Homo sapiens: one gene and its partners. The protein of the gene in region 2 binds, or shares a complex with, the protein of the main gene of each other region. Each region holds a gene or a part of one and is shown on either strand. Other genes may lie near its edges. The genes, in order: UBE2I, SUMO2, ATF7IP and ZNF451. A codon is read from its position in the direction of its gene.

Region 1 (7,280 bases), on a different chromosome or scaffold from region 2:
CCTTCGTTAGGCCGAGGACCGTGGTACTACAAAAGAACATTTCGTTAGCTGAAGTCACTACGATTGGCGAGAAACATCCGTTACTTCAGAATACGTTAACTACAAAATATATTGAATTTCCATATGTATTAACCATATACATGTGTAACTATTACTAAATGTAGTTCAGTCATTACAAAATAAGACATTCTGGGAGCGGGCTACAAATATTCAAACCAGCTGAATTCCCCAGGTAAGGCCCCGTGTTATAAACAAACCACAAACATCAGACGTCAGACCGAGAGCTCAGTGACTGCAGGGTGCGTAGCCGGAAAAGCCAACAAGGCACTGGCACCGCAGAGTCGCTGGAGGGGTGGTGGGGGGCACTGCCGGCTCGGGGGGCCTTTGGAAGTCACCTCTAACTTCGATTCCCAGCCAACAGCGGCTGGAGTCCCACACGGACCTGGAGGGTGCCGAGCTCCCCTTCCCAGGGCCCTGGACCGCCCTCCCTGCATTCTTTGCTCCTTTGGGGAGCCCCGCCCTGCCCTCTTGGGACCCTGCACTTGGGCCACGGGGACCCAGCTCCAGCCACCGGGGGGTGCCAGGGCAGCAGGGCCAGCTCCAGCCCCAAGGCTTGAAACGAAACTGAGGAGGGCCAAGCTCGCTAGGATGGGGAGACTGGGTTGGGAGCCAGAGGTTGGAGGGCTGGGAGCACCGGGCTGTGTCCCCCAGGGCTTCCCATCTCTGTCCACTGTGCCTTCCTGCTGGGAGGTGACCGGCACCCAACTTCCCAGCCAGGCCACTTCCTGCAGTGGCTCAGGCAGCCCCAAGAGGCCTGGCCGGCCCAACCTTTGCAGAGGGCTCAGCGTCAGGACGGCTGCTGAGGCGCACAGCCTCCCCAGGACAGACCACACTCAGGTGGCCTCAGGACGAAGAATTCCAGACACAGGCTGCCCAGGGCCCTCTACCTGGCGCTAAGGGTCGGGGAAGCCCTGGAGGGCCACGGCTGTGGGCTCTCCCAGAAAAAGCACCTGGCGTTTGCCACGGGTGGTAGCAAGGCTGCCTCCTGAGGACACAAGGGACAGACACCTGAGGTGGCACCCTATGCACAGCGCAGCTCCATCCCTGTGACCTGGCCACTGAAGAGGGGAACCCCCGCCAGCAGGCTGCCCGGATAGGAGTCCTCAGGCAGCCCCCAGCCCTGGTCTGGACCTGGCCTTGTGGCCCCCAAGACAGCTGGCACCGGTGCAGTTGCCAGGGTCTCGATGCCAATCCCGACCTATGCAGATCTTAGCTGCCCAGCGCTCTACAGCCCGCAGATGCGGGGAGCACAGAAACCTCAGCAGCACTTTGTACACAGCCCTGTTTACAAAGATCCAGGGCAAGACAGAGCCTCACAGCCTGCGTGCATCCGAAGCAGATGGAGAGCCTGGTCCTGGCCCGCGGTGGGGCTGCAGGTGGGTGGGGAGGGCCGGGCACTGGGAGGCCGCCTCCTCTCACTTTCAATGATAATAATGCAACCAAAACCTTTATATAAACAGTTTATTTACTCTAAACAGCAACACAGACAAAACGCCATATAAACACAAAGGAAGTGGCGCAGAACCGAGATGCTGACCTGGGGTCTGAGGCTCAAAAGCAGCACAGCCCAGGTTCTAGAAGGTTCTAGAGAGGAGCGGCAGGAGGGAGGGTGCATTTCCATACAGCCAGCTGAGGCCAAGTGCAGCTCTGCACGGTGAGAAGCATGCCTGCATCCCAGAGCGAGGAACTCGCCCCTGGGGGACTTACCCAAGTATAAAAGTTTATAATTTTACAGCAGTTGAAATACTGACATCAATATTAAAATAAAAGCGAGTTTTACATAACAATCAAAAATACAAAAGACCGAAGGAAGAGACCCTGTATGGAAACGGGCAATTCAGCGAATCGAGACCGCACACCCGCGGCGGCAATGGAAGATGGCGCCCGCCCAACCCCCCCAGGTGACTAGTCATTGTATGGAGCAACTTTAGATTTGCAAAAATGTTGTAAACAAGTTCTTGCCAAACCAATCCCTTCCTTTTGACGATGCCACAAGGTCGCTGCTTATGAGGGCGCAAACTTCTTGGCTTGTGCTCGGACCCTTTTCTCGTACTCCACTCTGTTTTGGCTGAGGAGGTCAAAAGAGAAGAGACGTGTTAGAGGGCTGAGCTGCCTGGCCCTCACGCTCGCCCCGGAGCCAGCTGGGCAGACCAGGCTGCAGGATGGGACCTCCTGGGGGAGGGCAGTGTGGAGCTCGTCATAGTAACAGAAGCAGAAGCCCGGAGAAGCAGGGAGGCCTGCGTGGTGGGGAGCCCATGCTGGCTCTGACGTGGCTGAGACTGTCCCGTGGTCTGACGGGGGCAGAAGGGCAGGGAGGAGAGGAACCCACGCTGGGTGAACGTGGTGTTCAAGGGGGACAGAGGGGTCCCGCAGGGCTGCGAGGAGGGCTCAGGCCCAGAGGGCCCACGCCAGGGCCTGCAACATCGTTGCCGATGCCAAGTCTGGTCCTAACTAGTAATCAGCAGCTTCTCTTTTCTGTAGGTCTGGGGACAGTCCTAATAAACTGAAAACACTGACTGCTTGCCACTGTTTTTGTTAATTCCCAAAAATAGACACCAATTTCTGGAGGGTTTTTCCATGAGGCTCTCAGCCGCAGGGGCAAAGGTGTGGGAAGGCAGGCCTGGTTGAGAAGGCGTTGTGCCCGAGCTGGGCAGTGCAGGGGCATCAGCGAACAGGTCTGGAGCTGGGTAGAGTGAGGCTCAGCCTGCAAGCAGCTGCCCAGGAGAGTGGCATGGCACACACTGCCCGGGCAAAACAGGTGGGCGGGAGGGCGGCCGAGGCTGCACCTAGGGGCTGATGGGTCACAGGGTGCAGTGTGACCCTGAGGATGGGGGAACACCATGACATTTATGGAGGTGGCTCCTGGGGTCGCAGTCCTGCCAGTCTCGCCAGGATTGGACCTGGTCTGAGACACTGAGCCTCACTCTGCATGGTGGAACAGCCCAGGACGGCAGCAGCGCCGGTGCCACCCCCACCCACGCCAAGGGCCTGGACCGCAGCCCAGACCCCAGCGCCCTCCTTGGGCCACCAGCCGGCCCCAGGGCAGAGCAGCTCAGCTGGGTGGGCGTGGAAGGAACCAGAGGCGGTGGCTACACGTCCCAGCTCTTCCTTGACCAAGCAGAGGCCCCGAGAAAAGGCACCTGCCAGGGCAGGAACACGGTCCAAGGCCTCCAGGAAACCCAGGAAAAACGATCTGAAACCCGCACACATGCTTCACAAAGGGTGCTTTTCAAGCGGATGTGTGTAGGAGAAAGAACGTTTGTTTACGTGCACGCAAGTGTACAGTGCAGCCCAGCAGGCACCAAGCCCAGGAGACGCTGGGGAGAGTCACACGGGGCGGGGGACTGCAACCCTGCCCAGCCCACGCCGCAGATGGGAGCCACAGCCCAGCTCTGGAGATGGTCGGCAAATGGGGTGCAGGCCAGACAGAGCTCACGCCCACACCATGCTGGGGATGGCAGACCATCTAAGGGCTAGGCAGGAAAACATTTGCCTTTTGTTTTGTTTTTTTGAGACAGAGTCTGGCTCTGTTGCCCAGGCTGGAGTGCAGTGGCGTGATCTCGGCTCACTGTAAGCTCCGCCTCCCAGGTTCAAGCCATTCTCCTGCCTCAGCCTCCCGAGTAGCTGGGGTTACAGGTGTGCGCCACCACGCCCGGCTAATTTTTTTTATTTTTACTAGAGATGGGGTTTCACCGTGTTAGCCAGGATGGTCTCAATCTCCTGACCTCGTGATCTGCCCACCTTGGCCTCCCAAAGTGCTGGGATTACAGGCGTGAGCCACCGCGCCCGGCATGCTTTTTTTTTTTTTTTTGAGACAGGGTCTCACTTTGTCACCCAGGCTGCAATCTTGGCTCACTGCAGCATCAACCACCTGGGCTCAAGCAGTCCTCCCACCTCAGCCTCCCAAATAGCTGGGACTACAGGCATGCACCATCATCCCCGGCTTAATTTTTTTTTTTTTTTTTTTTTTAAAGAGAGCAGGTCTTGCCATGTGGCCCAGGCTGGTCTCCAACTCCTGGGCTCAGGTAACGTCCCACAGTGGCCTTGCAAAGTGCTGGGATTACAGGCATGAGCCACCACCCCTGGCAAATTTTTTAATTTTTTGTAGAGATAGGGTCTCGCTATGTTGCCCAGTCTAGTCATGAACTCCTGAGTTCAAGCAATCAGCCCACCTTGGCCTCCCAAAGTGTTGAGATTACAGGTGTTGGGCCACCACACTTGGCCTAGAAATCATTTTCCAGGCACGGTGGCTCATGCCTATAATCCCGGCACTTTGGGAGGCGAGGCGGGTGGATCACCTGAGGTCAGAAGTTCGAGACCAGCCTGGCCAACGTGGTGAAACACTGTCTTTACTAAAAATACAAAAATTAGTCAGGTGTGGTGGTGGGTGCCTGTAATCCCAGCTACTTGGGAGGCTGAGGCAGGAGAATCACTTGAACCCAGGAGGCAGAGGTTGTAGTGAGCTGAGATCACACCACTGCACTCCAGCCTGGGCGACAGAGTGAGACTCTGTTTAAAAAAAAAAAAAAAAAAAAAAAAGAAAACATTTTCTGCCTCAAGGGCCATGTGGACACCCACGAGCACTGTGGCTTCCTGTCCAAGGGAATGCATTTCACGGACTCCTAGGGCACAGCAGGCCAGCACACAAACCCAGGTCACGCCACGTCCCACGAGCCACTTCCAGCAATGGCTTGGCTGACTGAGCGGCTATGAGTTTTTTTTTTTTTTTGAGACAGGGTCTCGCTTTGTCAAGCAGGCTGGATTGCGGTGCTGCAATCTCAACTCACTGCGCATCAACCTCCTGGGCTCAAGCAGTCCTCCCACCTCAGCCTCCCAAATAGCTGGGACTACAGGTGTGCACCACCATGCAGGGGAGCCAGGCTGAGCCTGGGGTGGCTGCTGTGATACTTGCTCCCTGCCTGGGGCCTCTGTGCCACCCTCGGCCACCAGGGAGGGCACCTTGCAGACACCTGGGCTGGGCCCGCATCCAGGGAGAAACACATCTCTCCAAAACCACGTGCTTTTTTTTTTTTTGAGACAGCATTCCTCCGTCGCCAGGCTGGAGAGCAGTGGCAGGATCTCGGCTCACTGCAACTTCCGCCTCCCGGGTTCAAGTGATTCTCCTGTCTCAGCCTCCCAGGTAGCTGGGATTAGAGGCACCCACCACTACGCCCAACTAATTTTTTGTATTTTTAGTAGGGACGAGGGTTTCGCCATGTTGGCCAGGCTGGTCTCGAACTCCTGACCGCATGATTCACCCACCTCGGCCTCCCAAAGTGCTGGGATTACAAGCGTGAGCCACTGCGCCCGGCCGAAACCAGGTGCTTTTCCTCACGACCTGTGCAGGCCGGGCCTAAGGCAACCGGGACCCCTCAGCCTCCCCCCTCCTGACCAGGAGATGCACCCTGGAGGGAGAGGGCCTCTGATGCCCACAGTGGCAGGGATGTGTGGGGTGGCTGCAGGTGAGCCTTCTGGGTCCCTGGCCATTGGGGGCCCTGAGACCCCCTCAGAGGTGTGGGGACCCGTGGTGAGATGGGGCTGGGTTTCTCAACGCTGCAGGCGGAGCAGTGGGGGGTCGGAGGCCCCAACCCACCTTCTTATGGACCTGCCCAGAACAGCTGCAGAGGGAACAGGACAGGCGGGCGCATGGCCTCTGCTCAGGGCAGGGTCCTCCCTGCTTTCCCCAGCACTGTTTGGCTGTCGTCTGCATCCTAACTCACACCAGGCCCTCCTCGGTGCAGACAGGACCCCAGGCCCACGGGGACCCTTCTAGCCACAGCAGCACCTCACAGGGACAGGGTGGAAGCCCAGGGTCCGTGTGACAGCATCACGTCACTGAGCCCTGCTGGGCTGGGCCCCCCCACAGAAGGAACCAAGTTGTAGAGGGGATGGGGACAAGCAGCAAGGGCGGCGCGGGAGGCTGGGGTCCATGGGAGGCTGAGCCGGTGGAGAGGCCTCTCAGCATGGCCTCCTCTGGCACCCACGCCCAGGGTCCTTCCCCTCCTAGCTGGCCACAACTCACTGGGGCAGTGGCCCAAGACAGCCCGTCACCTGGCCTGCTCCCTCCCCGGGACACGGCTCCGGCGCCATCCATGCCCACCGCAGACGGTGTGCAACGGTGCCTGCTGCCCACAGGGTTTATGCCCCCCGACCTTCCCCACAGAGGCGTGGACCCTGGCTGTCCGTAGGGTGAGCCTGTGTCCTCCACTCCCGTCCTGCCAGGCGGCCTTGGCTGGGACGGGGAGGAGCTGCCACCAGCGGGGCCAGGGCTGCTACTAACCAGTAAATCGTGTAGGCCTCTGCTTGAGCTGGGTCTTGGATATTTGGTTCATTTAGAAGTTCCTGTATTCCTAATAGGATCTGTGCCAGAGACAAAAACACAAGACGGGTGTGAGCAGTTTGAAAGGGAGACACCGTGAGACTCGGCCTCAGCCACAGAGAATGACCACAGACCCACGTGTCCGGAGGGGAGACTAAGGCAGCCCTGCCGGTGCCAGAGGCGGAGGCCCCGTACCTGTTTGATTGTGATGGCTGGCCTCCAGTCCTTGTCCTCCTCTAAGATGGACAGGCACACTGTCCCCGAAGGGTACACATTCGGGTGAAATAATGGTGGTTCGAATTTACCTGGAGGAAGAGGAAGAAAGGAAGCACTTTTTGGAGGCAGGCACTGTCCCAGAGTCACGTCCTTCCCCACATCACCCTCCTCCCAACACTGGGGCCCCGGGTTGGTAGCCAGGTTATTTGGCCAAAAACTTTTCAAAAAAATTAAATTGTGGCCATGAGGAGACTAAAGGAAGACATATCCACCTTTGCACACAGGGAACAGAGCCTTGGGGACACGGCCGCAGCCGAGACGAAGCTGTGTCTCTCCCAGGACAGAACTCCCAGCACAGCCAGGCAGTCTGGGAACACAGGCCCCAGGGTGGCCACTTAACCTGTGGCCCCCACATCCTTTCCAGCTGGGCCAGACTCAGGGGAGATGGGAGGAGCTGCAGGAGACGTCCAGGGACATAGCCAACGCCCTTCCAGAGTCGGCTGTTCCGACGCAGACCCTCTGCTTCCAGGATATACGGGCTTTTAGGACCCTGTGTTATTTCTTTACAAAAAAGCAGAAAAGTTTGCCACCATTAGCCCCACCAGGGACCATCACAGTTGATATTCTAGGCTATTTCCCATCTTTTACCTGGGCATCCTCCCTCTTCTCTCTCAATGCTACGGAA
Region 2 (7,280 bases):
GAGTTTATACTTGAAAGATCAGTGAAGATAAAAACTTCCTTTAGGCCTGATGCAGTGGCTCATATCTGTAATCCCAGCACTTTGGGAGACTGAGGCAGGTGGCAGTTGACATCAGCCTGGCCACCATGGCAAAATCCCATTTCTACTAAAAATCCAAAAAAATTAGCTGGGCGTGGTGTTACACGCGCATAATCCCACCTACTCCGGAGGCTGAGGCTGAGAATCCCTTGAACCTGGGAGGTGGAGGCTGCAGTGAGCCAAGATCACACCACTGCACTCTAGCCTGGGTGACAGAGCGAGAGCATTTCAAAGGAAAAAAAAAAAAAAACTTTAGAATGTTTGAAGTATTTTTATGCCTAGTGTATTTACAATGTAATAAGAAAATACTGTGCTCATAATTGATATGTAAACCTTCTTGTATGTAGTTCCTTATAAAGATACCTTTTTTTTTTTTTTTTTTGAGACAGAGTCTCGCTCTGTTGTCCAGGATGGAGTGCAGTAGTGCAATCTCGACTCACTGCAACTTCTGCCTCCCGAGACCAAGCGATTCTCCTGTCTCAGTCTCCCGAGTAGGTGGGACTACGGGCGCACGCCACCACGCCCAGCTAATTTTTGTATTGTCAGCAAGATGGGGTTTCACCATATTGGTCAGACTGGTCTTGAGCTCCTGACCTCAGGTGATCCACCTGCCTCATCCTCCCAAAGTGCTGGGATTACAGGCGTGAGCCACTGTGCCCAGCAAGATACCATATACTCTTATTTGAAGAATTTTGCTGAAATCACCCTACATGAACTTATGAATTGTGTTAAATAATTTATAAACTGGCATCTTCTATATTTGAACACTAGTGCCCCTTCAGGATACAGGGGAATTTTAAAAGGTAATCCTTTTGGAGAACTTCTTTAGCAAAACTGCATACAAAATAGAAAATCATAGGCTGGGCGTGGTAATCCAGCACTTTGGGAGGCCAAGGCTGGAAGACCAGTCTGGACAACATAGTAAGACCTCATCTGGTTTTTTTGTTTTGTTTTGAGGTGGAGTTTTGCTCTTATTGCCCAGGCTAGAGTGCAGTGGCGCAATCTCGGCTCACTGCATCCTCCGCCTTCCAGTTTTAAGCGATTCTTCTGCCTCAGCCTCCCAAGTCACTGGGATTACAGGACCTCGTGAACCACCCGCCTCAGCCTCCCAAAGTGCTGGGTTTACAGGCATGAGCCACTGCGCCTGGCCCAGACCTCATCTCTTAAAAAAAAATTAGGTGGTTGTGGTGGCACATACCTGTAGTCCAGGCTATTTCAGTGACAGAGGTGGGAGGATTGCTTGAGCTTGGCAGGTCTAGGCTGCAGTGAGCCATGATCTCATCGCTGCACTCCAGTGTGGGTGACAGAATGAGACCCTGTCTCAAAACCACAAACAAACAGAATCATGCTTCAGTTTGGTGGTTTTGAACAGTATTCTTTTCTTTTTTTTTTTTTTTTTTGAGAGTCTCGCACTGTTGCCCAGGCTGGAGTGCAGTGGCACCATCTCGGCTCACTGCAACCTCTGCCTCCTGGGTTCAAGCGATTCTCCTGCCTCAGCCTCCCAAGTAGCTGGGACTACAGGTGCGTGCCACCGTGCCCAGCCAATTTTTGTATTTTTTGTAGAGACGGGGTTTCACAATATTGGCCAGGATGATCTCGATCTCTTGACCTCGTGATCCGCCTGCTTCGGCCTCCCAAAGTGCTGGGATTACAGGTGTGAGCCACTGGTGCCTGGCCTTGAACACTATTCTTATGCATATCTTATTTAACTTTTCTGCAATTGCAAAATTTTGCCTTTTTTTTTTTGAGACAGGCTTTTGCCCTGTTGCCCATGCTGAAGTGCAGTGGGAGGATTATGATCATGGCTCACTGCATCCTCTGCCTCCCAGGCTCAAGCAGTCCTCCCACCTCAGGCTCCCAGGTAGTTGGGACTATAGGCTTGTGCCACTGGGCGATTCTTTTTTTTTTTTTTTTTTTTTTTGAGACGGAGTCTCGCTTTGTCGGTCAGACTGGAGTGTAGTGACATAATCTCGGCTCACTGCAACCTCCACCTCCCGGGTTCAAGCAATTCTCCTGCCTCAGCCTCCTGAGTAGGTGGGATTATAGGCACCTACCACCGTGCTCGGCTAATTTATTTTTCGTAGAAACGGGGTTTTACCACGTTGGCCAGGCTGGTCTTGAACTCCTGAGCTCAGGTGACCCACCCGTCTCGCCACCTCGGCCTCCCAAAGTGCTGGGATTACAGGCATGAAGCACTACGCCTGGCTTTTCTTTTCTTTTTTTTTTTTAAGATGGAGTTTTCCTCTTGTTACTGAGGCTGAATGCAATGGCGCAATCTAGGCTTACTGGAACCTCCGCCTCCCAGGTTCCAGTGATTCTCCTGCCTCAGCCTCACAAGTAGCTGGGATTACAGGCATGCACCACCACGCCTGGCTAATTTTGTATTTTTAGTAGAGACGGGGCTTCACCATGTTGATCAGGTTGGCTGCTCTGAAACTCCTGACCTCAGGTAATCCACCTGCCTTGGCCTTCCAAAATGTTGGGATTATAGGCGTGAGCCACTGCACCTGGCCACCATGCAAATTTTTTAATTTCTTTTTTTTTGAGATGGAGTCTTGCTCTGTTGCCCAGGCTGGAGTGCAGTGGCATGATCTCAGCTCACTGCAACCTCTGCTCCTGGGTTCAAGCAATTCTCCTGCCTCAGCCTCTTGAATAACTGGGATTACAGCGCCTGCCACCTAGCCTGGCTAATTTTTTGTATTTTTATTTATTTAATTAATTAATTTTTTTTTTTTTTTGAGACAAGAGTCTCGCTCTTGCAATGGCACGATCTCGGCTCATTGCAACCTCCACCTCCCGGGTTCATGCAATTTTCCCCCCTCAACCTCCGGCTGGAGTAGCTGGGACTACAGGTGTGTGCCATTGTGCTCAGCCAATTTTTGTGTTTTTAGTAGAGACGGGGTTTCACCATGTTGGACAGGCTGGTCTCGAACTCCTGACCTCAGGTGATCTTCCACCTCAGTCTCCCAAGGTGCTAGGATTACAGGCGTGAGCCACAATACTTGGCCTTTGTTTTTAAGTAGATGATGGTTATATACTGTTTTTCATCCCTTTTATGCCACTGATACTTACTGAGCAGCACCTACTATGTGCAAGGGATAGACTGTGTAACTAAAACAGTCTAGGTTCCTATATCTCCTGAAGTGTGTTTTTTAGTAAGACAGTAAGTAATTACAGATTTGGGTAAGTATTAAAGGAAATTAAAAAGCGGTGCTTTTTTAAAGCTATTCCAGGAAGTTCAAGGGTGTAGGTTGGGGCATTTTAGGTCGGTTTTGTTGTTGTTGTTGTTGTTTTTGATATTGAATCTGGTCTGTCACCCAGGCTGGAGTGCTAGGGCACGATCTTGGCTCACTGCAAACTCCGCCTCCCAGGTTCAAGCGATCCTCCTGCCTCAGCCTCCCGAATAGCTGGGATTACAGGCGGATGCCACCACACTCGGCTAATTTTTGTATTTTCAGTAGAGGCGGGGTTTCACCATATTGGCCAGGCTGATCTTGAACTCCAGACCTCAGATGATCTGCCTTGGTCTCCTAAAGTGTTGGAATTACAGTGTGAGCCCCCGAGCTCAGACTGGAGTCTTTAAATGGGCATTTTTTTCCTTTAAATTTCCTGTTAGTGGCCAGCCAGGCGGATCACGAGGTCAGGAAATTGAGACCATCCTGGCTAACACGGTGAAACCCCATCTCTACTAAAATACAAAAAATTAGCCCAGCATGGTGGCATGAGCCTGTAGTCCCAGCTACTGAGGAGGCTGAGGCAGGAAAGTCACTTGAACTCCGGTGGTGGAGGTTGCGTTGAACTGAGATTGTTCCACTCACTCCAGCCTGGGCGACAGAGCGAGACTCCATTTAAAAAAAAAAAATTTCATTTCCTTGTCTAACTCATTTAAATGCATATTTGTCTCAAGGTATGTTCTATTTAACATTATAGTAGCTGTGTCTGAAAAGCAGTAAAGCTTTCTAAAAGAATGACTTACTGGCTGGGCGCAGTGGCTCACACCTGTAATCCCAGCGTTTTGTGAGGCTGAGGTGAGTGGATCACTTGAGGTCAGGAGTTCGAGATCAGTCTGGCCAACATGGTGAAACCCTGTCTCTACTAAAAACACAAAAATTAGCTGGGCATGATGGCAAGCGCCTGTAATCCCAGCTACTCGGGAGGCTGAGGCAGGAGAACCACTCGAACCCAGGAGGCGGAGGTTGCAGTGAGCCAAGATCGCACCACTGCACTCCAGCCTGGGCGACATAGCAAAACTCTGTCTTAACAAACAAACAAAAACAACAACAACAAACAGGCCGGGCACAGTGTCTTATGCCTGTAATCCCAGCACTTTGGGAGGCTGAGGTGGTCAGATCATCTGAGGTCAGGAGTTCGAGACCAGCCTGGCCAACATGGCGAAACCCTGTTTCTACTAAAAAATACAAAAATTAGCCAGGCATGGTGGCGCCTGCCTAGTCCCAGCTAATCAGGAGGCTGAGGCAGGAAAATTGCTTGAACCCAAAAGGTGGAGGTTGCAGTGAGCCGAGATCGCGACACTGCCCTCCAGCCTGAGTGACAGAGCAAGACTCTGTCTCAAAAAAAAAAGAAAAGGAAAAAAAATACTACATCTTACTGTTCACTGAAAATGAGAGGCTGGGCACCATGGCTCACTCCTGTAATCCCAGCACTTTGGGAGGCTGAGGCGGACGGAGCACCTGAGGTTAGGAGTTCGAGACCAGCCTGGCCAACCTGATGAAACCCAGTCTCTACTAAAACTACAAAAATTAGCCGGTTGTTGTGGCGGGGGACCGTAGTCCCAGCTACTCTTGGGAGGCTAAGGCAGAAGAATCGCTTGAACCAGGAGGTGTAGGTTGCCTTGAGCTGAGATCACGCCACTGCACTTCAGCCTTGACAACAGATCAAAACTGTCTCAAAAAAAAGAAAATGAAAATCACCCCAAATCTTTTTACCTATAGGGTATGTTAACATGTTGGCAATTGTTTATTTAGGTATTTCTTTAATATATTCATGGTTAAATATGCATGTACTTTTATGTAAATAGAATTCTGTTTCTCTTAATGCTGTTTATTGCTTTTAAATTCTCGTTCAGGGATTGTCAATGAGGCAGATCAGATTCCGATTTGACGGGCAACCAATCAATGAAACAGACACACCTGCACAGGTAAAAAAATCTCTCCTAATTAGAAAAATTACCATTTGTAATTCTTTGAACAGCTGTGTTTATGAATTTGAACGTTTAGACACTGGAGTATAAGTTCTTGTAGAGTTCAGAGCTTTGGGAAGTATGACCAGAGGGGAACAGAAAGGAAAATAGGAATAGGCTCAGGAAATGCCAATGGTTTTTATTCATTTATTTTTAATTTTCATTTTAATTATTTTTTTAGGGACAGGGCCTCTCTGTTGCCCGGGTTGAAGTGTAGTGGCCTCATTATAGCTCACTGCAGCCTTGGCCTCCCAAAGTGATGGGATTATAGGCACGAATCAATGTGCCCAACCCCACCAGTGGTTTGTGTTTGTTTTTTGTGACGGAATCTCACTCCATCGCCCAGGCTTGAGTACAGTGTCACGATCTTGGGTCATGGCAGCCCTCGCCTGCCATGCTTAAGCAATTCTCCTGCCTCAGCCTCCCAGAGTAGCTGGGATTACAGGCATGCACCACCATGCCTGGCTAATTTTTGTATTTTTGGTAGGGATGGGGTTTCACCATGTTGGCCAGGCTGGTCTTGAACTGCTGACCACAAGTAATCCGCCCGCCTTGGCCTCCCAAAGTGTTGGGATTGACAGGTGTGAGCCACCGCACCCAGCCAAATCCTCACCATTTTAGTTCTACATGCTGAATTGAAATTCTCTTTTACGTGTCTTCATGAACAAAAAGGAACTAATAGCCCTAATTGCCACGTCCCATAGCTTTGTTTGACAGGGAGAGCCCCTGATAATAGGAGATTTTCCAGATCCTTACTACAAAACGTGATGCTCTCTGATCCTTTAACTCTTTATGTACCACTTCATTTTGTTCTGTCACTTTCTGTAGGATCAGCTGGATTGTCTTCTGTGGCAGAAGCTCTTTGTTTCTTTTTACCCTTTCAAAGTTCCATTAAATACTTCCAGTTTTGTCCTAGCAGGGTGGCTCATGAGAGCCATTTTCAAGATTACAAAGTGCTTGTAATGCCAGCACTGTGACGCCAAGGTGGGCGGAGCACTTGAGTCCAGGATTTCAAGACCAGCCTGGGCAACATGGCAAAACCCTCTCTTTACAAAAAAATACAAAAATTAGCCAGGGAGCAGTGGTACGTGCCTGTAGTACCAGCTACTTCTTAGGGTGAGGTGGAAGGATTGCTTGAGCCCAGGAAGTGGAGGCTGCCGTCACCCAAGATGGTACCACTGCACACCAGCCTGGGTGACAAAGTGAGGCCCTCTCTCAAAAAAAAAAAAAAATGACTTCCAGTCTTGTCCTGACTTGGTGGCTCACACCTGTAGTCCTATCACTTTAGGAAACTGACACTGGCAGGAGGGTTGCTTGAGGCCAGGAGTTTAAGACCAGTCTGGGCAATATAGCAAGACCTGGTCTCTACAGGAAAGAAAAAGAGCTGGGCATGGTAGCATGTGTCTGTAGTCCCAGCTTCTTGGGAAGTTTAGTGGGAGGGGTGCTTGAGTCCAGGAGTTTCAGGCCGCAGTGAGTTATGATCATACTACTGCACTCCAGCCTGGGCGATAGAGCAAAACTCTGTCTCAAAAATAGAAGACTTACAGTTTCTGAAACATATTTTACAATGTTGTGATAGTAGAAATTTAAATTGGATCCCATGTACTTTTGAATTTCAACTTTATCACCCAGTAAAAACTAGAAAGTGATAAATGTGGCATGAAGCAGCACATCCAGATTGTAGTTTTGTTGATAATCTTTGAAAATTGGAAAAGCCCCTGAGTTGTACTGAAAAGAAGAATATTTTGAAGACATTTCAACTGGTGACAGTCTCTCAAAAGGAATTACGGGCCAGGTGCACTTGTTCACACCTGTCATCCTAGCACTTCAGGAGGCTGAGGCAGGCAGATTGCTTGAGGTCAGGAGTTTGAGACCAGCCTGGACAATATGGTGAAACCCCGTGTCTGCCAAAAAATACAAAAATTAGCCAGGCATCGCCGGGCGCAGTGGCTCATGCCTGTGATCCCAGCACTTTGGGAGGCCGAGGTGGGCGGATCACCTG
Region 3 (7,613 bases), on a different chromosome or scaffold from region 2:
CCGAGTAGCTGGGATAACAGGCATGCACCACCACACCTGGCTAACTTTTGTATTTTTAGTAGAGACGGTGTTTCACCATGTTGGCCAGGCTGGTCTTGAACGCCTGACCTCAAGTGATCCGCCCACCTTGGCCTCCCAAAGTTCTGGGATCACAGGCATGAGCCACTGCACCCAGCCTAATTTTTGTATTTTTTGTAGAGACTGGTTTTGCCATGTTGTCCAGGCTGGTCTGGAATTTCTAGGCTCAAGTGATTCACCTGCCTCTGCCTCCCAAAGTGCTGGGATTACAGGCATGAGCTGTGCTTGCTCGGGAGGGCTATTTTTATCATCCCCATTTTATAGACTGGGAAACATTTGCGTAGAGAATTTCAGGACACTAAACAAGTAAGAAGTAGAGCCAAGGTTTCAATTCAGGTAGTAAGCCTTCAGAACCTGAAAGCACTAGATTAAGCTTCCTGTTTTATTATTTTGTACTCAGAAACTTCAGTTTTCCATTTCAATGGCTTTTCGGAGTTTATGCTGTTTTTCTTTTTTTTTCTTTGATATGGAGTTTTGCCCTTGTTGCCCAGACTGGAGTGCAATGGCATGATCACAGCTCACTGCAACCTCTGCCTCCTGGGTTCAAGCAAATCTCCTGCCTCAACCTCCCAAGTAGCTGGGATTACAGGCGTGGGACTAATTTTATATTTTTAGTAGATATGGGGTTTCAACATGTTGGTCAGGCTGGTCTCGAACTCCTGACCTCAGGTGGTTCACCTACCTCGGCCTCCCAAAGTGCTGGGATTACAGGTGTGAGCCACCGCGCCCGGCCTATGCTGTTTTTAAAAAGTTCTGTTTTCTTTGTTCAGTTGCTACAACTGAAATGTATTGGTTTATATTTATTATTTTAGTTTAGGTCTTTTTTTTTTTTCTTTTTTTGTGAGACAGGTTCTATGATCCTACTTTACTCTAGCACTTTTTCCTAGGAAAATTATATTTAGCCTGTATCATTTTAGCCTAAATATACCAATAAAAACATAATGGTAGATAAAATATGAAAATCCTTTTGTACTAACTGGTAAGTAGCTGCCCCATCCTACCACACCCTTCATACCACCAAGTCAGGCTCAGTCCCCAGCTGAAGAGCCTCTGGACCTCTTCAAGATCCTACAACTAAAGAATTAACACCTGACAAAATAGGGTGGGGGGAGGGAAGTCTTCAAGCCTGCTTCCATTCTGATTGGTCAGTGATATAGGGATTGATAAATATTTTAAATGTGGTCCTACCTAGAAGTCTTAAGTTCAGCTTTTTTCATTCTTCATTGTTTTTGTATTTTCTGTTATTTTCTAACTTGAATACTTTCTTTTGTACCTAGTCTGACAGCCTAGGTACAAAGTTCTACATCATAAGTCAGGTCAAGTATCACTTCCTCTGTGAAGTTTTCCCATATAGTATGAGGAAGATTTAGGTTCTCTCATTTTAGAATTTTTTTATGCTTAAGACATACCACCAAAATATTAATGATCTCATAATGTTTATCTGTATTTACAACTCTTTCCCCATGAGAAACAGTGTCATTTCCTTTGGGCATCCCCAGTGCCCAGAATAGTTTGTGAGACATTATAAATATTGTATTCATTGAACAAATCAATGAATAGTTGATTAGGTCAACCAGCGGGTTTGCATGGCTGAAGAGACTGTAACTGTGGTTGAGGATATCTGAGGAGATTCGAATCCAATAAAATTGTCTAGTTGGAGTCTTCAGGAGGCAAGTCTAGAATATGAGCATATCTAAGAAAACTGATAAATCTGTGGTTATGCTGAATTATTTTTCCATTTGCTATTAGCATGGATAATCAAGAATAGACTATCATAGGCCAAGCATGGTGGCTCATGCCTGTAATCCCAGCACTTTGGGAGGCTGACGTGGGCAGATTACCTGAGGCCAGGAGTTCGAGACCAGCCTGGCCAATATAGCAAAACCCCATCTCTACTGAAAATACAAAAAATTAGCCGGCCGTGGTAGAGTGTGCCTGTAGTCCCAGCTACTCAGGAAGCTGAGGCAGGAAAATCGCTGAACCTGGGAGGCAGAGGTTGCAGTGAGCTGAGATCGTGCTACTGCACTCCAGCCTGGGCAACAGGGCAAGACTGTCTTAAAAAAAAAAAAAAAAAAAGAAAGAAGGCCAGATGTGGTGGCTCACGCCTTTAATCCCAGCACTTTGGGAGGCCGAGGCGGGTGGATCATGAGGTCAGGAGTTTGAGACCAGCCTGGCCAAGATGGTGAAATCCTGTCTCTACTAAAAACACAAAAATTAGCTGGGCGCGGTGGTGGACGCCTGTAATTTCAGCTACTCAGGAGGCTGAGGCAGGAGAATTGCTTGAACCCGGGATGTGGTGGTTGCAGTGAGCTGAGATCACGCCACTGCATTGTAGCCTGGGCAACAGAGCAAGACTCTGTCTCAAAAAAAAAAAAAAGAATAGACTATTATAAAAATGATTCTTTTTTATATGCTTACAGAAGACATAAAAAGAGAAACATAATGGGCTCTAGTATTCCAATCCAATTTCTCTTATTATTATGGAGTGTAACATTTAATATCAATATTTCTAATTTTCTGAGCATCTACTTATAATTGAGCACTGATGTACTATGAAAATTATAATAAATAAATTATAATTGAGCATCTATAATTTATTGAGTATATGCTAAGGACTGTGCTAATGATGTTACAACATTTAGCGATTAAACAATGCAAATTTAATTGTGTTATATCCCGACTTAAAACCTTTTAAATGATTCCTCATTGCTGTCCCAATGAGGTCCAACTTTTAGGCAAAAAATTAATTAAATCATTTATCATGATAGAGATGACCTCTTCTAGGAAGGCTTTTCTAATTCTCTAGGTCTGGATTAGGTGATATTTCTTTTTTTTTTCTTCGAGATGGAGTCTCACTCTGTTGCCCAGGCTGGAGTGCAGTGGCGTGATCTTGGCTCACTGCAACCTCTGCCTCCCGGGTTCAAGTGATTCTCCTGCTTCAGCCTCCCGAGTAGCTAGGACTACAGGCGCGTGCCACCACGACTAGCTAATTTTTTTTTTTTTGTATTTTTAGTAGAGGCGGGGTTTCACCATGTTACCCAGGATGGTCTCGATCTCCTGACCTCATGGTCTGCCCGCCTCGGCCTCCCAAAGTGCTGGGATTACAGGCGTGAGCCACTGCACCCGGCCCTAGGTGATATTTCTAAAGGCCACCTTATATTTTAAGTAAATTGAATGGTTCCAGTTATAAAAATAAGTATTAACAACCCTATTCTAATTTCTTATTAGTTACAAAAATTTCTTGTTCAGTTTTCTGTCTTCTTCACTAGAGTACAGATTTCTTGAGGACAGGCACCTAACAGATCTACAACACAGTGATTGCTAAATAAATACTGAACCAATACATTCATATAATGAGAAGTTACATAAAAAAACAATAACCACACGGTACCATCTAATATTATTTTCAGGCTATTCTTGCCTTGCAAAACATATGTACTTTTATTCTTTTTTTTTTTTTTTTTTTTTGATAAGGGGTCTTGCTCTGTAGCCCAGGCTGGAGTGCAGTGGTGAGATCTTCGCTCACTGCAATCTCGGCCTCCCAGGTCCCAGTTCAAGCAACTCTCCTGCCTCAGCCTCCTGAGTAGTTGGGATTACAGGCACGCACCACCATGCCTAGCTAATTTTTGTAATTTTAGTAGAGACGGGGTTTCACTATGTTGGCCAGGCTGGTCTTGATCTCCTGACCTCAGGTGATCCACCCCCCCTCAGACTTCCAAAGTGCTGGGATTACAGGCCTGAGCCACGGCACCTGGCCAAAACATATGTACATTTATTCTATCATTTAGTGCTTCCAACCTAGTTCAACTATAGTCATGATTGCCATTATACAGGTGAGAAAACTGAGTAACACACTTATTCCGAGGAACCGGCAAGGAAGCTGCAGTAGTTGAACTTGAACCCAGATCTCTTAACCAGTAAGGCAGTGACTTGTCCACTACCTCCTGTGGAATTCATTAAAGGCCGACTCCCAGCATGAAATTGAATAAATGGGATGAATACAACTTCTGGTGAGAGAGTATGATAAAAAGTGCTTGCTCTGTTACCAAGCAACTGAAAGAAAGTATGTTTTTTTCATTCCTTCATTATTAATACAATTCAAAGTACATTCTGTGAATTTAAAACATAAATGATGAATAAATCAACATACTCCTGGCTTTTATGAAAATCTTTCCCTCTGCTCTTTAAACTCTCACCTACCTCCTTCCTTCTTTCTTTTCTAAGCCTCATAGAGGGCGCTCACAAAGTGCTACTTATTGATTGAGGAAGATCCACTCAAAAAACACACCTCACACTGCAACTGAGAGACGCAGCGCCACCACCTCGGGCTTCCTTCTCTTTTCCACGCAGGAGGCGGGGCCAATGTCCCTCATTCAAATAAAAAACCAGAATTTGCATGGGGAATGGCTAGTCCTTGAGCTTATTGGCTGATAGCACAGTGGGCGGGGTACATAGCACGACCCCCCGGAGCCCCGCCCATATTAATTTGCATAACGGCCCCGGCGCGTGCAAGGGAGAAGCGGGTTTGTTTTTGAATCTGCGGAGGCGGCGGCGGTGGCAGCGGCGGCGCGGCGACTGAAGCGCGCGAAAAGCTGAGGCGGCAACGTCGGGGACGGCTGCGCGGGACGGCTCTGTAGGAAGGAACTTGGTTCCCCCTCCCTCAGCTTCCGCCCCAAAAGGTATATGTGAATCCCAGGGGCTGTTAAAACCACATTTTCTTAAATTACTATTGTATTTCTGAAGAGTCAAGACCGCATTATGGCGGCTGCGGGAGTTGTGTCTGCGCCTGCGCGGTTGCGGAGCTGCGGGCGGCGCTGCATGGGAGCACGTGATCTTGCGGGGTCGGGCTCTAGCTGCAGTTGTGCAGCTGGCGGGGCGGTGGCTGCGCAAGCGCAATATTCATTTTCAAGATCTAATGTTCTTGTTGGACGCCATTTGGGTTCTAGATTTAATTTTCCTCGTTCTTGAGGGGTTTCTTTGTGTTAACCTTAAATTCTCACAATTTTCAAGAAAAACATTACTCTAATGTTGTACTCCTGGGCCGACCTCAAGCTCTTCTCTGTTTTTTCGATTTTTTGAAAAATTGTGGACTTAATTTTCTGTAAAAATGATTTTCATTTGTGGTTCTTGATTATAATTTCAGTTTTAAAGTATTACTGGATTCAGGTTTATATTTACGGTGGTAAAGATCAGCACCTAGTGGTGTTCTCACGGGAAGTGCATTTATTTGAACTGCATATTTGCAAATACATTTTTAACCCTATTTTTACCTGTTCTGTTATGGATGTGTGGAATGTTTACAAAACAGAAACAATTTTAGTTTTGGGAATATTGGGGGAACGGGAATAGTGGAAGAAATTACAGTATAATCGAAAATGAAATCTCAATCTGAGGATTATTTTGGTTTTAAATGTTTGATCCTAAGTAAATAAAGTTTTAATTTTAATCAGTTTGTATGTTTCTGGGCATTTGAATTTTACATGTTTTAAGTTTCTTAGGTGACTTGTTCATTACTGCTTCAGCTAGATTATTGTTACTTTTGAAATTAATCAACTCATTTTCTTAGCATTTTTGTTTGCTATGATATGTAAGCTATAACATTTATTTGGTAAATTTTTCTGATGAAGAATTCTAGAAAGAACATCCATTACCCTGAGGCCTCTTTGAAGAAAGTGGACCATTAATAAAAAAAATCTGTTTTTTTCTTTTAAACACTGTACTGTATGCATGTGTGTAAGATACAGTTGTGTTTGATTTTTTAATTGTAAGTGTGCTCCTGGTTTTATTAATAGTTTTTTAGGGAAGGTAATTATAAATATGCTACTGATTAGTTTAAAATGGTAGTGTCAACTATAGTTAAATCTTATGTAACACAATTGGGGGAAGTTATATAAGATTTGATATGATTCTCCCGTTGTGCAAATTCTTTCTTACTAAGCAAAGAAACTTGCAAATGTTTTCCATAGACTTCATTTGTGGTTCATATATACAACAACTGGTTTCTTGGTTGGTTATAACTCTTTAAGTTTGAATCAGTCTACTGTCAAATGAAGACGTGCCTCTTGCTTTATAATCTCGGTTAATTTAGGGAAATTTTTATTGCCTAAAACAAATACCATTAGTAAATATTACCTAGATGTAATTGAAAGTAATACTTTTGGTTGGTGGATTTTTAAATGACGTCACATATGAGATAGAATGGAGGTAGGAAAGATTCTTCTTTTTTTCTCAAGAGAATATTTGACCTGATGTAATTCTTGGATCTCTGAGGTCTTCTACACAGAAGTATATTTAGAGAGCAGTTGTGTAATTTTCTCCCTTTTATGTTTCTGGAGTGGTTACCTAGCAGCCCCTTTCTACCACATGCTATTTCAGGCATTTTCGAGTTGAACATACACATAAATATTTCGGTTAACAAAAGAACTTTGATCTTTGATCTTAGGGCATGGTACACTTTACATTTCCAGAAAAATGAAATAGTTTGGTGTATATAAGCGTATGTTTTCATTTGAATATACAGATGATTGCTTTTTAGGTTAATATTGAAGGTAGTAAGAGGTATTTGAAAATGCTCTTGAATATGAAGAACATATTTATTGATGGGACGATTTTGCTGTCATGTTTCTTACAAGGCAGATATAATCATGTAAACTTAATAAGATTAATTAATTGCCTGAACACCAACTATTTGTTTATTAGTACTTTGTCAATAACAAGTATATTTTAAAATTTTAGTTTGGTGGTTATGATGCCACAAAATTTTGACACATATCCAACATATATAAATATTAAGACTAGGTTACTCCAGGAATGAATACCAAGTTACTGAAGTTATTTAAAATCTTTGTAGTTTTGTAAATTTAAAAATTTATATGTAGTTTAGAAAAGACAGGTTTGAGTTATTAAACAATTAGAACTATTTTTTCTTTAAATTAGGTTTTGCATATGTGATAAATGTATTTAAATATTTTTAAACTTATTCATTATAGAACATTTGGAAAATATTGAAAATTAATTAACAATGCTTAGAAATAACCACTCTAAAGGTATTGGTGATTTGTGACTTCACTTTTCCATGATTGAGCAATCTATAAATGTTTATTAATTAGTTTTTCATTGGTACCATAATTTCATTTCTACTCTTTTAATGTTATGAGTATTTTCCCATTTCATTATTCTTCTAAAATATGTCTTTAAATGGTTGCATGATACTTTATTATAATATCCCACATGATCAAATGTTCTTTTTAAACACATTTTAAAATGGTTACATATTATTGTTATCTCTAAGAAGAATTTACTGTGATTTATTAAACCTTTCATTTTTTGTTTCCTGTTTTGCTTTTTGCTCATTTCTCTATTAAAAATAATGCTACAGTGAACGTTCTTGTACTATACCTCAGAATATTTCTTTGAAATTACTTTCAAAGGACTTTTAAAGTAATTTGCAAAATTGATAAAAACTTTTTTTTGAAAAGCATTTTTTATCATATTCAATACCACCATCAATTAGATGGGTGAAAAATAGTAGCTCA
Region 4 (7,280 bases), on a different chromosome or scaffold from region 2:
CAAGATATGTTAAGTTCTACTCAAGATATGCAAGAAGCTAATGATGGCAAAGAGAACTTAAGGAAAGTTCCACTGAGAAGAAAAAAAATCTAAAACTCCCCCATTAGAGTCATTTTAGGCACCTCTGAAAATTCTGTCATTCACTGTCCACGAATAACAAAACTTCCCAGTTGTATAGTCCTACTTTATGGTTTGTAGTTATAAGAAGTTATAATTTGTTACCTCATTTCATCCTCACAACAACCCTGTGAGGTAGGTATTATTTGATTAAAAAACGGAGGCTAAAAGGTTACTTAATTTATCCAAAGTCACAGAATTTGTAAAGAGTAAAGCTGGGACTCAAACCCAGGTATTCTGATTCCAAGTCCAAGTCTCAATCCCCTATATCACAGAGCAAGAAGTTTGTGGCCACTCTGAACAATAACTAAGAGTTTTCTAATCCAAGATGAAAACAGCTCATTAACAGAAGTTTGGGCTAAAGCAAGGACAAATGAAAGGCAAGACTGTTACAAAGGGCTCAACTAGTTCAATTCTCAGAGCAAGGGAAGTATTGGTCCAAGGGTCAAACCTACAACCAGTACATCACAGGTAAGATAAATAACTCCAAATATGTGGGGCACAGACAAGGTTAAAGGGATGATGACTGAAGTAATATATCCCCTATAAACCCTTCCCCCACTTTCCATTCCTAAAAGGATCTCTACATATCCTTTTTTCTAAGAGAAAACAAATTTTCTGTGGTCATGTGGTTCTGGAACAAAAGAATCCTGTTGTATAGGGCACCTGAGGAGAGTAAAGGAAAAGAGAAGGGAAAGAGGAATCAATAAGCTTGCAGTTTTTATTCCATTTCCATTTTATCAGATATCACCTCTAAGGCTCTGAATTTCCCAGAGTCATATTATCATTTTTTTCATAATCTCATTCAAAGTAGAGGAAAAAAACTGGAAGTAGGAGATCTGGGCAAAGGACTCCTTGGACTACCTATTTTAGCCCATTCTAATAGAACTGGCTATTTCTAAACACAGCCTTCCCTGATTTGGTAACTCTCTTTAGAGAATACCTCTTAAAAGACACAAGTGAAGAAACACAAATCAAATATAATGTACTTACATCAGTATAAGAGGTGCTAGGCTCTTCATCATCACTGCTGACCAGATCAATGTATTCAAGAACAGGTCGTAATGGTCCTTCCTATAAACAATCAAGCAAATTTAGAAGTCATTAACAGTTATTCAAACCAAATTAGCATTTAAACCTACAGTGTTTTTTTTGGTTGGGACTGGCAAGAATTACTCTGAAGAGGGAGCTTTGTGGGTAGCAGAAAATAACCAGAACAAAAGCAGCAGAGGAAAATATTCAAAATATATAAATGTAAAATGATGACAAGACCTAAAAGGAAGCACCTACACCCCTGTAGAATATTAGGGCCATGTCAATTACTTGGGAAAGGAAAATTAATATAAGAACAGTGCTACAAAGACACAAATATTATAATCCAGTGCTTTACACCTAGAATTGGTATCAAAAGTCTGTTAATATATCCAAGTTCAAAAATGAATTGACTTATAGCTCAGCTTCATCATCCACCACTGCAGAGTCAAGCATCAAACCTGAATTCTTTTCCATTCTTTCTTTCCATCCATGCCAATTTCTTCATCAACCAGGCCTTGAATGTCAGGCTTAAAAGCCTAGATTTTATTCAATAGGCAAAAGAAAATAAAAAATAATAATAAGACAATAACATGAGAACTGTGCTTCAAGATCAATCACATAGAGGAGTATGGAGAGCAGGGAAAGCAAGATAATCAGTATAGGCACATGACAATGCAGAACTAATGGTGGTGATGGCAAGAAGAGTATGGTAGTGGATATACAAGAGAATACAAGTAAAATGGAAAACTAAAAGAGATTGATTATTAGGCCAGGTGTGGTGGCTCATGTCTGTAATCCCACCACTTTGGGAGGCCAAGGTGGGGGATCACCTGAGGTTAGAACCATGCCTGGCTAATTTGTGTACTTTTAGTACAGATGGGGTTTTACCATGTTGGCCAGGCTGGAGTTCGAGACCAGCCTGACCAACATGGTAAAACTCCATCTCTACTAAAAATGTACAAATTAGCCAGGCATGGTGGTGCGTGCCTGTAGTCCCAGCTACTCAGGAGGCTGAGGCTGGAGAATTGCTTGAACCTGGGAGGCAGCAGTTGCAGTGAGCCAAGATCACGCCACTGCACTCCAGCCCGGGCAACAGAGCAAGACTATCCCAATAATAATAATAATAATAATAATAAATATATAAATAAAAATAAATTTAAAAGATTATTTAAAAAACAAAACAAGGAGTCAGTGATCTCTAAGTTTTTAACCTCAGGTGACTATAAGAATAGTAATGCCAATAGTATAACTTTGGAAAGCAGAAACAGAAAGCTGACATTCCTATGGGCTGAAGTAACAGTGGTACACAGGGTGTATCTAGCAGACAGCTGGAAATGCAGGCCTGTAATCTGGGAAGTATGAACATACCTGGAAATAAAGACTTGAGAGTTGCTCCCCTAGAAGACTATTAAACTCTAGAACTAAACTGAACTATCATATTGCCTCAATAAAAAGCTGTCAGTGTTAAATGTGGCCAGAAACACGGCAACAATAAAATGCCACTGAATGTGGCAACCAGACATTTTTAAATGTCTTTGAGAGAGCAACTTTCAAGAAAGTAGTGAGCACAGAAGCCAGGCTCTAAAACACTAGAGAATGCAGTAGAAAAGGCCATATTCTTTTGAGAAATCCAGTATGTTGGAAACAAAAGAAAGGAACACAGAAGAAATAATAGCTGAGGAAAGGATTTTGTAGGATGTAGAAAGTTGACTGCTGGAGACAGAAGCTGAGATCTAGGTAATGATCTTCCCTAGAATAGGCATCCAGTCTCAAAGATAGCTTCTTTCTCCCCTAGGCTATGACTTCTGCTCAACCAAGAAACTGCCATCTTTTGGGTACTAATTCAGATACCAAGATAAAACAAGAGGGCAAAACTGGGCAGGGATCTGTAGCAAAGGAATTGAGATTTTTGCTCAAACTATAAACACGGAAGTAAAAATTAAAGAAACAGAGGAAGCAATACTCTCCAATATATGGTAAACAGAGCTGAATCACCTACTTTAAAATCTACATCTGGTATGAAGAATGTAGGCCATGCACGGTGGCTCACACCTGTAATTCCAGCACCTTGGGAGGCAGAGGTGGGTAGATGACTTGAGGTCAGGAGTTCAAGACCAGCCTGGCCAACATGGTGAAACCCTGTCTCCACTAAAAATAGGAATAGGGTGTAGTGGCGGGCACCTGTAGTCCCAGCTACCCAGGAGGCTGAGGCAGATGAATTGCTTGAACCCAGGAGGCAGAGGCTGCAGTGAGCTGAGATGGTGCCACTGCACTCCAGCCTGGGCAACAGAGCAAGACTCTGTCACAAAAAAAAAAAAAAAAAAAAAAAAAAGACTGAAAATTGTATGTTCGATCCAAGAAGAAAAATTAAAATGATAGCTTTTCCCATTGATATAATCATCTTACTTTGCTCTCTACAAGAAATATGCATTAGGAACCTTCATTATAGGTCCACAGAAATAGCAGAACACAAAAGCGCCCCCCTACCCCCCCGCCCCGGTAACCAGAAATACACAGAGGCAGAGTTCCCATGCACAGAAAGTAAAGAAGAAGATGAAAGATGACAGGATGCAAGGTAAAAAGTAAAATGGGCTGGAAAAAAATAAGATAAACAGGCTGGGCACGGTGGCTCATGCCTGTAATCCCAGCACTTTGGGAGACCAAGGTGGGCGAATTGCCTGAGGTCAGGAATTTGAGACCAGCCTGGCCAACATGGTAAAACCCTGTCTCCACTAAAAATACAAAAAATTAGCCAGGCATGGTGGTGGGCGCCTCTAATTCCAGCTACTCAGGAGACTGAGGCAGGAGAATTGCTTGAACCCGGGAGGCAGAGGTTGCAGTGAGCCAAGACTGTCCCACTGCACTCCAGCCTGGGTGACAAGAGCGAAACTCCATCTCAAAAAAAAAAAAAAAAAAAAAAAAACAGAAAGAAAGAAAGGAAGAAAGAAAATGATCAAAAACATAATTTAAAAATAGCTGCAGGCAGGATGGCTCATGCCTGTAATCTCAGCACTTTGGGAGGCCAAGGCAGGTGGACCACATGAGGCCATGAGTTCGAGACCATCTGGGCCAACATGGCAAAACTCTGTCTCTATTAAAAATACAAAAATTAGCTGGGCGTGGTGGTGTACATCTGTAATCCCAGCTACTCAGGAGGCCGAAGAACAAGAATCGCTTTAGCCCAGGAGGCAGAAGTTGCAGAGAGCTGAGATCACGCCAGTGCACTCCAGCCTGGGCAACAGAGAGGGACTCTTGTCTCAACAACAACAACAACAACAACAACAAAAAAAAAAAGCTGCAGTAATATTTAAAGGGAAGGAGTAAGGACAAATAAGGTTATCAGAAATTTATTCTTGCAGTGAACCATTAAACCAATATGCAAACATTTTTCAACTACTGAAGAACAATAATTTTATATGATTCACACTAAGAGAAAAGAAAAAAAGGAAAATATGGATAGAAAATCCAGACGAGCGTGGTAGATCACGCCTATAATCCCAGCACTTTGGGAGGCCGATGACGGAGGATCACTTGAGTCCAGGAGTTTGACACCATCCTGGACAGAACAGTGAGACCTCATCTCTACAAAAATAAAATAAATTAGCTGGGTACAGTAGTGCGTGCCTGTAGTCCCAGCTATTTGGGAGGCTGAGGCAGCAGAATTGCTTGAGCCTAGGAGTTCAAGGCTGCAGTGAGCTATGATTACGCCACTGCACTCCAGCCTAAGCAAGACTGAGACCCTATCTCTTTAAAAAAAAAAAAAAAAAAAAAAAGTATCACAGAAAATCCAAAATTGAGAAAAAACAGAAGTCATTTAGAATATTTATACATTCAACAAATAATTACTGAGCTTTAAGTGACAGAGTAGAATGAGAAGGGGAATCATGTTGAAAATCACTAAAATGGCAAAGAGATTGAGTGGAAAAATAAGGACAGACATGTACCCCAAAGGAAAAGATTACTTATACACAAATAGTGTACACTAGCTAATTTTCAGTGAATATGGAAAAACTTCCATGATAATGAGCTTACGGAAGTAAAACATTTAGTACTCCATTTATTTGACTAAGAATCAATAACATTTATTGAGCCCTGTACCATGCCTTGTGCAAAGCTTTTAATGTACATTTCACTTAATCCCCCAAATTACTTTACAAGGTGAGATATTGAATTATCAGTATTATCCCATTTAACAGATGGGAAAACTGAGTGGGGTATACTTGGTTCTCTAAACACAACTGGCTGTACAGGCACTATAATTGTGAGGTAGTTCAAAACATAAATACTATTTTTAAATCAATGTTTATTACCTGAGTTCCTGAAATAACACATTTTTTCTTCCTTAAGAGAAAATGGACTACCTCTATTACCCCATCTGTGAATACTTTGTAACACTGACCAAAAATAAATTACCAATTTCTCAAAAGAAGTTATGTTTATAATAAAAATATCAAGAAAAAATAATTTGGTATAATATTTATAATTACTACTTATATCTTTAACAACTATAACTGCGTATGGTCCTGTAATTACAAGGTATTTTTATTTGCATTTGTTCTATCCATCAACTAGTAAACCATCATTCTCATGCCCTATTGCACCACTAACAAAAAATAAAGGATTCTAAGCAGGGCATGGTGGAGTGCACCTGTAGTCCCAGCTACTCGGAAGGCTGGGGAGGGAGGGTTGCTTGAACCCACAAGTTTAAAACTGCAGTAAGCTATGATCATACCACTGCACTCCAGCCTGGGCAAGAGTGAGACCCTGTCTCTGAAATAGAAATAAAAAATTAAATAAAAATAAAATTTAAAAATTAAAGAATTCTATTCCCAATACCACACAATTTAGGGGCAGAAGCACATGTAGAAGCATGGCAAAACAGTTTAGGAAAACAGTTAAACCAATATTCTAAGTTTTAAAATATGTTTCATGAAATAAAAAGCTTTCATTCCTGTTATGAGAAAACTGATTCTCTAAGCCAAAACACCAATTTCCTACTAATTGGAAAGAGATATCAATACACCAAAATATGGTCTACTAAAAAGGTAGTTTACTACAACCAAAGTTTTCTCTAAAACAAAGAATATGGATTTGAGCATAAATCTGAAACCCTAAATAATTCATTTTTCCCCCCATATAGAGAAGTCAGGGACACAGGTTACTTGTGCAGTCCTGACAGGCAACATTTCAAATAGTTTCCAATTGTGCCTGTTTTATAGTTCAAATTTAATCCAACATTCAAGATCTATACTACCTGGCCCATGCCGCCTCCTCCCACCTTAAAAAACAACAAAAAATCTTTCACGACTACACATAATCCTCTCTGCTTTCCCATTCTGATGCCTTTCCTTGTTTCTTCTACTCAAAATGCCCTTTTAAACACATATAAATCCTAACTACTACTTATTACTACTACTAACTACTACTATGATAAACTGCAAGTCTTATGTCCTTTTTTAACAGCACTATGTACTTTCTGTAAGAGAACTTTCTACTACCTCTAAGGACTATTTACATACTTCTCACCTCCTATCTCATCATTCACACTAAAATACTGACCCTTAAGGGTAGGATGTATTTCAAATTAATCCTTGTAGCTCTAAGGAACTTAACTCACGGCTTTGCATATTATGAGCTTCAACACTTTTTATTTATTAAACCAATCACAGCCCCAAGACACCCAGCCAAATAATACTATTTTCTGCCTGACTCCCTTCTGCAGCTAAAGTATTAATACTTGATCTATGTGGTACTGAAGCTATTTAGGAAATTATATCCTGATTTCACTGACTTCCAATGATGCTACACTATATCAATAATCTTGGCTGAAACCTGAATCTCTTGTATTGTTTTGTTAGCAAAATTACGATAGGTTCCCTCAGCAGTTTGTATACCTTCATATCTAGAACAGCACTGTGAACTATCACATCATCAGCTATTAGTTTTTTAGAAGTAAATCACATAAAAAATCTGCAATTTCAAAGAAAGATATAAAAACAGTAGTTGAATAAAGGATCATATTACTAAACAGAAATAAGAACAACAGACCTAAATAAGAAGTTTTTGTTATGGCAGCATTCTGTTTCTTGATTTAGGCGCTGTTTACATAGATGTATGAGGCTTTGCAA

Evidence for each region.
Region 1: the proteins of SUMO2 (region 2) and UBE2I are in contact, whole or in part, in a crystal structure (PDB 5D2M), measured with the Homo sapiens proteins. Residues at the interface, in NP_008868.3 of Homo sapiens: Gln25, Asp26, Gly27, Arg56 (codon at 5,177), Gln57 (codon at 5,180), Ile58 (codon at 5,183), Arg61 (codon at 5,192), Phe87, Gln88, Gln89, Gln90, Thr91, Gly92, Gly93; in NP_003336.1 of Homo sapiens: Asp19, Asn85 (codon at 6,655), Cys93 (codon at 6,631), Leu94 (codon at 6,628), Ser95 (codon at 6,625), Ile96 (codon at 6,622), Asp102 (codon at 6,604), Arg104 (codon at 6,598), Ile107 (codon at 6,589), Lys110 (codon at 6,580), Gln111 (codon at 6,577), Leu114 (codon at 6,414), Gly115 (codon at 6,411), Glu118 (codon at 6,402), Leu119 (codon at 6,399), Glu122 (codon at 6,390), Asn124 (codon at 6,384), Asp127 (codon at 6,375), Pro128 (codon at 6,372), Ala129 (codon at 6,369).
Region 3: the proteins of SUMO2 (region 2) and ATF7IP are in contact, whole or in part, in an NMR structure (PDB 2RPQ), measured with the Homo sapiens proteins. Residues at the interface, in NP_008868.3 of Homo sapiens: Met1, Ala2, Asp3, Glu4, Asn14, Asn15, His17, Val30, Gln31, Phe32, Lys33, Ile34, Lys35, His37, Thr38, Pro39, Lys42, Ala46, Arg50; in NP_001375109.1 of Homo sapiens: Gly965, Val966, Ile967, Asp968, Leu969, Thr970, Met971, Asp972, Asp973, Glu974, Glu975.
Region 4: the proteins of SUMO2 (region 2) and ZNF451 are in contact, whole or in part, in a crystal structure (PDB 5D2M), measured with the Homo sapiens proteins. Residues at the interface, in NP_008868.3 of Homo sapiens: Asn19, Ala23, Gly24, Gly27, Ser28, Val29, Val30, Gln31, Phe32, Lys33, Ile34, Lys35, Lys42, Leu43, Ala46, Arg50, Gln51; in NP_001026794.1 of Homo sapiens: Asp30, Ile31, Gln32, Phe33, Val34, Ser35, Glu36 (codon at 1,191), Gly37 (codon at 1,188), Pro38 (codon at 1,185), Leu39 (codon at 1,182).

The regions. Positions count from the first base shown.
Region 1 is NC_000016.10:1,319,578-1,326,857, reverse strand, and holds part of UBE2I (SUMO-conjugating enzyme UBC9), read right to left. Parts: intron 6,685-7,280; coding exon 6,575-6,684; intron 6,421-6,574; coding exon 6,341-6,420; coding exon of another isoform or gene 6,199-6,340; exon of another isoform or gene 2,129-6,198; coding exon 2,065-2,128; 3' UTR 1-2,064. UniProt on the Homo sapiens protein: Accepts the ubiquitin-like proteins SUMO1, SUMO2, SUMO3, SUMO4 and SUMO1P1/SUMO5 from the UBLE1A-UBLE1B E1 complex and catalyzes their covalent attachment to other proteins with the help of an E3 ligase such as RANBP2, CBX4 and ZNF451.
Region 2 is NC_000017.11:75,172,708-75,179,987, reverse strand, and holds part of SUMO2 (small ubiquitin-related modifier 2 isoform a precursor), read left to right. Parts: intron 1-5,164; coding exon 5,165-5,236; intron 5,237-7,280. UniProt on the Homo sapiens protein: Ubiquitin-like protein that can be covalently attached to proteins as a monomer or as a lysine-linked polymer.
Region 3 is NC_000012.12:14,361,071-14,368,683, forward strand, and holds the start of ATF7IP (activating transcription factor 7-interacting protein 1), read left to right. Parts: upstream 1-4,611; 5' UTR 4,612-4,757; exon of another isoform or gene 4,758-6,120; intron 6,121-7,613. UniProt on the Homo sapiens protein: Recruiter that couples transcriptional factors to general transcription apparatus and thereby modulates transcription regulation and chromatin formation. Can both act as an activator or a repressor depending on the context.
Region 4 is NC_000006.12:57,092,972-57,100,251, reverse strand, and holds part of ZNF451 (E3 SUMO-protein ligase ZNF451), read right to left. Parts: intron 1,192-7,280; coding exon 1,111-1,191; intron 1-1,110. UniProt on the Homo sapiens protein: E3 SUMO-protein ligase; has a preference for SUMO2 and SUMO3 and facilitates UBE2I/UBC9-mediated sumoylation of target proteins. Plays a role in protein SUMO2 modification in response to stress caused by DNA damage and by proteasome inhibitors (in vitro).